2 linked regions of the Homo sapiens genome follow. The protein of the gene in region 2 purifies or fractionates together with the protein of the main gene of each other region. This does not show direct contact. Each region holds a gene or a part of one and is shown on either strand. Other genes may lie near its edges.

The links.
Region 1: the proteins of IRF2BPL (region 2) and VGLL4 purify together in Homo sapiens (affinity purification with mass spectrometry; 5 studies listed by BioGRID and IntAct, with this or other methods). This does not show direct contact.

The regions. Positions count from the first base shown.
Region 1 is NC_000003.12:11,641,982-11,645,889, forward strand, and holds the start of VGLL4 (transcription cofactor vestigial-like protein 4), read right to left. Parts: upstream 1,935-3,908; 5' UTR 1,538-1,934; coding exon 1,456-1,537; intron 1-1,455. UniProt on the Homo sapiens protein: May act as a specific coactivator for the mammalian TEFs.
Region 2 is NC_000014.9:77,026,894-77,030,801, forward strand, and holds the start of IRF2BPL (probable E3 ubiquitin-protein ligase IRF2BPL), read right to left. Parts: upstream 1,816-3,908; 5' UTR 900-1,815; coding exon 1-899. UniProt on the Homo sapiens protein: Probable E3 ubiquitin protein ligase involved in the proteasome-mediated ubiquitin-dependent degradation of target proteins. Through the degradation of CTNNB1, functions downstream of FOXF2 to negatively regulate the Wnt signaling pathway.

The sequences.
Region 1 (3,908 bases), on a different chromosome or scaffold from region 2:
TCAGAAGTTTTTCTTTCTTGTTGGGGGAAGCGGGGATGGTTAAAAAAAAAAAAAACAAGAAAAACAAAACCCTGACTACAATGTGTGAATGTCACGGGAAACAAGCCCAGCAATGGCTGCTTACGGCTTTCTAAAGTCGGCTGCCTTTTTTAAGTGAGTTCAGAAGCAAGATGTTACTTAACACATCAGATGCAAAGAAAGAAATTCACGAAAATTCTCATAGCAGGAACTAGTAGGAGTAAAGAAAAACAAATACTCTTTTTAAAAAACGTTAAATATGAGATCCTCATCCATAGAGTTTTAAAAAACAACGTGAATGAGGGTTGTTGTTGTTTTTTTTCCTTGAAGGGGAAAAATACTCTTGAAAGGGTGAGTTTTCAACTGATTAGGAAACAGGCCTGAAGTTTTTAGATTAAAAAAATACAAGTGAATCACCCTCCCAAGTTTTTGTAACTGTTTTCTTTTTCAAGAGAAATGTCCCGTGTATTATTGGAGAAAAAATGGAAACTGCTCCTGCTGAATGAGAAAGAGAAGAGTCCCGGATGTGTGTGTGGTTACAACAGAAAACACTCTTCCTGCCAGGCCGAACTCCCCCGGAGATGCCCTCGGCGGCAGACCCAGGGCCATTGCCACTTTTTCAAATCGCACGTAGAGGATGTCCGAGGGCTTAAGAAATAGATTTTTCTCTGACTGCTACCAGAGACAGTTGGAAATACAAGACAGTGGGGGAAGCACCTCGCGGGCAGTAGGAGGTAATAAATAACAGTTCGGCGCGGCTCTCTCTTTTTCAGGGCAGGCTGGGGGTCGGGGTGTTGTGTAATCGCTCCCACAGGGAGCGGAGCGCGAGGAACACCCCCCAGTGTCAGCGCTCCCCGGGCTGCACAGGAAGCGCCAGCGAGACAAAGAGCCCGCCTGTGCTCGCTGACACGGTGCCCTTCCGGCCCCACGCGGGAGAGGGACATTCTCCGCTGTTTGGGACGCTCACTCGCGAGCACAAAAACTCGCTGTAACTTTGGCTCCCCCTCCGTGAGCTGCAGGGCGCCGTGGCCCACAGCAGGGTACAGTAGACGGTGCAATCCTTACCAGCCCCTCCCCCAAAGAGGCTCAACTTTTACCGGCGTCCTACAAGTCCTTCCCCTAAAGACAATATTAACGGAAATCAAAAATACATACATTTTAAAGAGTTAAAAATGTGAGGCGCGAGTACGTTGCAAGCAACGAGCAAACTTTGAAGGGTTTCTACTTCACTGCCTCCCCGTCCAGCCCCCTCCACCGCCCCCCGCAGCCTGAGATCCGAACACACTCGGTGCCGAACCGAACCTAAGAAACGCCGGCCTTTCAAGTGCCCTACACCCCGGAGGAGGACAGCGGGCGCTTAGAAGGCAGGCACCCAGCACACTGAGGAGGAGTGGCCGGGACGAGCAACGGGCAGTAATTCTACAACGGGACATCTACCTTCGTAGCACAGAATGCCGATATTGTTGTTCATCTTGTCCAAGTACTGATAGTTCAACAGGTCCATCTTCATAAATAGCATTTATTGGGCTAGCAAAGAAAACCAGCTCTTTGCTTTTGCCCCAAAAGAGTTAAGTTTCAAAAATCAATTGTTGCTGAGTAGCTCCTGGCTCTTCAACTTCACAAAGGCAGAGGCCCAGCCTCAGACTATCAAAACAAAGTATGCAAAAGTTAAAAAAAAAAAAATCAGGCACAAAAAAATCGAGCTCACACGAAACCCTTCAAGGGCTTACTGGTAGACGGTGTATGTACTGTATCCCCGATCGAGTATGAAAACAGCGTTTCAGAAGTCCTTACAAGTCCTTCCTGGAAATGGAAAAGAGTGAAAAAGAGAAACGCGCAGCCCGTTTCCTAGGACAAAGCGGCGCCGGCCCCTCTCACAGCCCGCTGCAAGCCGGCAGCGCTGACATGAGGGCTATGCTTGGCATGACTCCTATGCCGCCGCTTCCTCTTCCCGCAGGAGGCCGAGCATGCTCACTGCGCCGCGCTGCCGAGGCAGGGAGGGCTTCTGCACAGGATCAGCCTCTCAATGTAGCAAGTGTTGGAAAGAAAGAGAAAGGGGAGGGGGAGAGACTCTAGAGACGGGGCCTTGGCAGAGTGGCTCTTGACAGGAAGCAGCCAAGCCGCTGCAAAACCGTAGGAGGAAAAAAGAAAACCCAGGAAGTTTCTTTTTCAGGAGCTAAGTACAAAGTAAAAAATCCATCATGGAAGCAAACTCCCATGGAATGCAACTTTCGTGAAACTTCATGTTGGGGTTTCGGAAACCCAAAGTGCTAGTGATGCATAAGCCATATATATATATATAGTGTCTTTGTTTCTTTTAAAGATTGTTTTATAATATCCATTTACACTTTAACTGGATATTTAAATTTCTGATGTTAATGTTACATATAGCTTCTTCCATAATCCCCATAACAACTGAGATGGACAGGGCAAGGAGGGTATCACCCTTTCACAGCAGAGGAAACAGGTTCAGATGGATTAAATGACTGGCCCACAGCCCCCAAAATAGTTGACAGAACTACTTTTAAAGTGTTTTTTCCCACCTAATGTTATAATTTTATTTAAAAAAACGAGGGGGCCGGGTGTAGTGGCTCACACCTGTAATCCTAGTCGAAGCAGGCGGATCACTTGAGGTCAAGAGTTCAAGACCAGCCTGGCCAGCATGGTGAAACCCCATCTCTACTAAAAATACATAAATTAGCCTGGTGTGGTAGCGCACGCCTGTAGTCCCAGCTACTCAGGAGGCTGAGGTGGGAGAATTGCTTGAACCTGAGAGGAGGAGGATGCAGTGAGCCAAGATCGTGACACTGCACTCCAGCCTGGGCAACAGAGTGAGACTTTGTCTCAAAAAAAAAAAAAAAAAAGAAAAGAAAAAAAGGAGACAAGGAGAGGAGAAGAGATGGAAGAGTGTTTAAGCAAATAGGGCTATAATATCAAAAATTAAAAGTGTACTTGAAATTATAGAGGGAAAGGGTAAAATTATTTTCATTTGGCATGTATGTCACCCACCTGTGTGTAAGAAGCTAGTGGCATGCAGCTGTACTATTTGCTATTGGAAGAACTTGGGGCTTAAACTTTGATTACCCAGTGCCTAGCACAACCAAGTTCAGGTGCCCAAAAACTGTTTACTGAACGAGTGAACCACTGAATGTTCAGTTTTCAGCACATCAAGAACGTGTTAACAAAATAGAAAAAAAAAAAACAAAAACTAAACATTTGAATTACTATTCTAAAAATATATTTTTAATATTCCAAAATAATATTTGAATAAATAATTTGAAGGAGTTGTATGTTAAAAATCCAGCAATAGGCCAGGCGCGGTGGCTCACGCCTGTAATCCCAGCACTTTGGGAGGCCGAGGCGGGTGGATCATGAGGTCAGGAGATCGAGACCATCCTGGCTAACACGGTGAAACCCCGTCTCTACTAAAAATACAGAAAATTAGCCGGGCGCGGTGGCGGGCGCCTGTAGTCCCAGCTACTCGGGAGGCTGAGGCAGGAGAATGGCGTGAACCCGGGAAGCGGAGCTTGCAGTGAGCCAAGATTGCGCCACTGCAGTCTGCAGTCCGCAGTCCGGCCTGGGCGACAGAGCGAGACTCCGTCTCAAAAAAAAAAAAAAATCCAGCAATAGTTGCATTGGGTTTATTAGGCACACTCATGGCAAGGTGTTCTAATGAAATCTTACTTGGGAGTCCGGATGCGGTGGCTCACGCGTGTAATCCCAGCACTCTGGGAGACTGAGACGGGCGGATCACTTGAGGTCAGGAGTTTGAGAACAGTCTGGCCAACATGGTGAAACCCTGTCTCTACTAAAAATACAAAAATTAGCCGGGCATAGTGGCATGTGTCTGTAATCCCAGCTACTAGGGAGGCTGAGGCAGGAGAATTGTT
Region 2 (3,908 bases):
CCGAGACAAGCGGGGCCCCCAGGAGCCCCTGGGGGAGCAGGCGTCGGGGGCCCACGGCTGCCCAGGGCGTGGGGAGGGGGTGGGGGGAGTACCGCAGCGCTGGCCGGGCCGTTAAGCAGCGTCTGCGGTAGCAGGTTGGGGGGCACGGTGAGCTGGGGGCCTCCGCCACCCCCCGGGTTGGGCAGCCCCGTAACCAGCCCACCGTGCGTTCCACGCCGAGACGCCACCGACGCCGCCGCTGAAGAAGAATTGGGGCTCTGACGGTTCAGCTCTGGGGGTCCCTCCTCTGGTGTTGGTTTGGGGAAGCCGTTTGGGCCCCCCAGGCCGTTGGGCAGTCGCGCGGTGTGGCTGCTGCTTCCCAGGCTCACCGGCGGTGGCGGGTACTCGAAGCGGCTGCGCTGTTCCACCGCAGCGGCGGCGGCGGCGGCGGCGGCGGCGGCAGCGCTTAGGCCGTAGCGCTCCAGGCCAGACGGGGCCGCCAGCACCGCAGGCTTGCTGGAACCATCAACGTGGTTGAGCTGTTGTTGCTGCTGCTGCTGCTGCTGCTGCTGCTGCTGTTGCTGCTGCTGCTGCTGCTGTTGCTGTTGCTGTTGCGCGGCGGCGGCGGCGGCCGCCGCTGCTGCCGCCGCCGCCGCCGCTTCCTTAGCCGACAGGGCCACTGTCTTGACCCCGACGGGCGGCGGCGGCCCGGGGGAGCGGCCGTCCTGGAAGCAGCCGTGCGCCCGCTTCAGCTGGCGCGCTGTCTCGATCACGAATTCGATGCGATCAGCGCCCTCGTAGTTGACGCAACCGCGGCATACGGGTTCCGAGAAGTCCCAGATCATGGCCCAGGGCATGCGGGGCAGGTCGCACAGGTAGCAAGATTGTCTCCGGGACGAGGACACCTGCGCCGCCGACATGATGCCTGCCCTGGGGAAGGTAGGCCCCCGCCCGGGCTGTCTCCGCGGCGCCTTCTCCTCCGGGAGGACTGGCCGGCTGGGGAGGGAGTCCGACTGCGGGGGAGGGAGGAGGGGGGGCGAGAAAGTTCTGCCCCAGGGGCTGGAGGGAACGCGAGTCTCCACCGCCGGCGCAGCGCCTCGCCGTGGGGGCTCCACCGCCCGGGCAGCGGACGGGTTCAGCCCTCTCTTCGCCCCCACCTCCTACTGCGGTTGACTCGTCGCGAGGGGAGCTCAGGCGCCTTCTTCCTGGTGCTGCAGACTTGGGCTGGAAGCTCCCGGCCCGAGGGGAGGGGGCGAGGGTGCCCGGTGGTGGCCGCCGTTGCCTCTTGGCCCCCTCCCCGGAGTGGCTGGTGCGTGGAAGCTCGAAAGGGGCTGTCTCTTCCTCTCCCCGGGGACCCCCCTACGAGCTGCGTCCTCTCCCCGACGGGCCCCCTGGGGCGAGGGCCAGAGGGTTCAGTGCCACCCGGTGCCCGGGTCCAATCTTGCTGAAGCCGCTGCTTCCCCGGAGGACCGGGGGAGGGGGTGGCAGCCGAGAAAGGACCTTCTCCCCTCCGCAGCGTCGGCCGTTCTGCTGGCGGCGACTGGGTTTGCACCCCGGAGGGAGCCGCCGCGGCCACTGCTTCCAGGACGCACGAGAGCAGAGGAGAGGAGTGCACGCACGCAGGCTCCCGCCGCCCCCAGGCCTGGCCGGCGCCCGGGCCGCCGCGGCTGGCGGCGCTCACGTTGGCTGCAGGGCGCTCGCGCGGCGCCTCGGCCCGGGTCGCATCCCTTCCCGCTCGTGCTCACGCTCGCCCGGAATGTGGGGTTGTGATTGTTACTCTACGTTCCGGAGGCGCGTCTCGGCGCTCCTGCTCCGGCTGCGGCTCGCGCTGTCCCCGGCTTGGCCGCGCGGGATGCCGCCCGGGCGGAGCGCTGACGTCACCGCCATGCTCTGCACCAGTTCTTCCCCCTCCCCTTTACACTTCCTCTGTGGAGCCCACTTGTTGCTCAGGCAAGGCGCATGCGCGGCAGGACGCCCAGATTCCTCCCAGCCGGCCCCTCCTCCGCGCCTCCGCCCTCCCCTCCCCCCTCGCCGTGTGTGTACAACAGCTGAGGCCCGGCGAGCTAATGCTGGAAGTCCAGAGCTGGGGGTGGAAATTAAACAGACGATGACCTTTCCTTTCCCTGCCGGGCATTCCCAAGTAAAAACGCATTTAAGAACCACTAGCGTCGTTTCCGATCCCTGCTCCCCACCCCACCCCCAAGCCTCGGCAGTGAATTTAAATGTCCTGTTTCAGGATTTTTCGCCGTGAATTTCGTATAAGGTATTAACCATTTCATCTGCGGTTGAACCTTATCCCCCCCGGCATGGATGTTAAATTCATCGCCACCACTGATGCCGAAGCACCTGCAAAATTAGCTGTTTTCCAATCTTCCAGAAATTGTCTTTTCTATTTGTTTTTGTGCCCTGATCTAGGAACCCGGGCTTCAACGATAGAGCTAAATGAATTCAGAGTGCGCTACCCTTCCCCCCAGCCGCACTTTAAAAATTTTGGCTGAACGTCTGAAGAAGATACGAGCACCCCGAGGCCTTTAAGGAAAACAGGCAACTGGCTGCGCACAGCTGCAGTTCAGGGCAGGGAGGGGGAGGGGCCGGAGAGGCCAAACAGGTGAGTGTTTTTTCTAGAGTTTGATTTTTAAAAGGTGGAGGCAGCATTTAATAATACTGATACATTTTTGTAAAGCACAGCCGCAGTTTTCAAAGTTCTTTCTCAGGCGCTGTGATCTCACTCCATGTTGCCCCAGAAGGCGGAACAAGGCCGTGATTTTTTTTTTTTTTTTTTTTTAAGACGGAGTCTTGCTCTGTCGCCCAGGCTGGAGTGCAAAATGGCGCGATCTCGGCTCACTGCAACCTCTGCCTCGCAGGTTCAAGCGATTCTTCCGCCTCAGCCTCCCAAGTAGCTGTGATTACCGGCACCCGCCATCAGGCCCAGCTAATTTTTTGTATTTTTGTAGAGACATGGTTTCACCATGTTAGCCAGCTGGTCTTGAACTCCTGACCTCAGGTGATCCTCCCGCCTCGGCCTTCCAAAGTGCTGGGATTACAAGCATGAACCACCACGCCCGGCCAAGGCCGTGATTTCTTCTGCCTTACAAGATCACTGCTCATCAGTATTGCTTATGGCACGATGGATATGTTGGTCATAGCTCTAGTTGGGGCATTTCTATTGATTATTCTAATTATTGGGTTTGCTTTTTTTTTTTTTTTTATTTCATGAAAACTGAGATAATCCCAGGGAAGGCTGGAGAAGGGAAAGCAATATAATGGGATTTCGGATTCTGAAGTGTGGCCCACCAGATTGAAATTTCCTCTCCATCACTAACTGGCTCTCCACCCTTAAGCTAGTTACCCACAAAATCTCTCTTTTCCATGGAAAAGAGAATGGAATGATAGCTCCCAGGTTGTTAGGGTTGTTTGAGATTTCAACTTCGGTTTTTTGTTTTTTTGAGATAGGATCTTGTTCTGTTGCCCAGGCTGGAGTGCAGTGGCACACTCGCGGCTGGCAGCAGCCTGACCTCCCAGGCTCAAGTAATCCTCCCACCTCAGCCTCCCTAGTAGCTGGGACTACAGGCATGTGCCATTACACCTGGCCAATTTTTTTGTATTTTTGGAAAGGGATGGGGTTTTGCCGTGTTGCCCAGGCTGGTCTCAAACTCCTGGGCCCAAGTGATGCACCCACCTTGGCCTCCCAAAGTGTTGGGATTACAGGCATGAGCCACCTCACCCGGCCTCAATTTGTTTCTTGTCATAAGAAGAGATAACGCTTACTTAGACTTGCCGTGGGACCTTAGTAAACTAGGTGGCTTTACTTGCATCACCCTTAATATTATCTACATTATTAAGGGGATATTATCTATAGTATTTTGTTGTTGTTTTGAGACAGAGTCCACTCTGTCACCCAGGCTGGAGTACAGTGACGCAATCTCAGC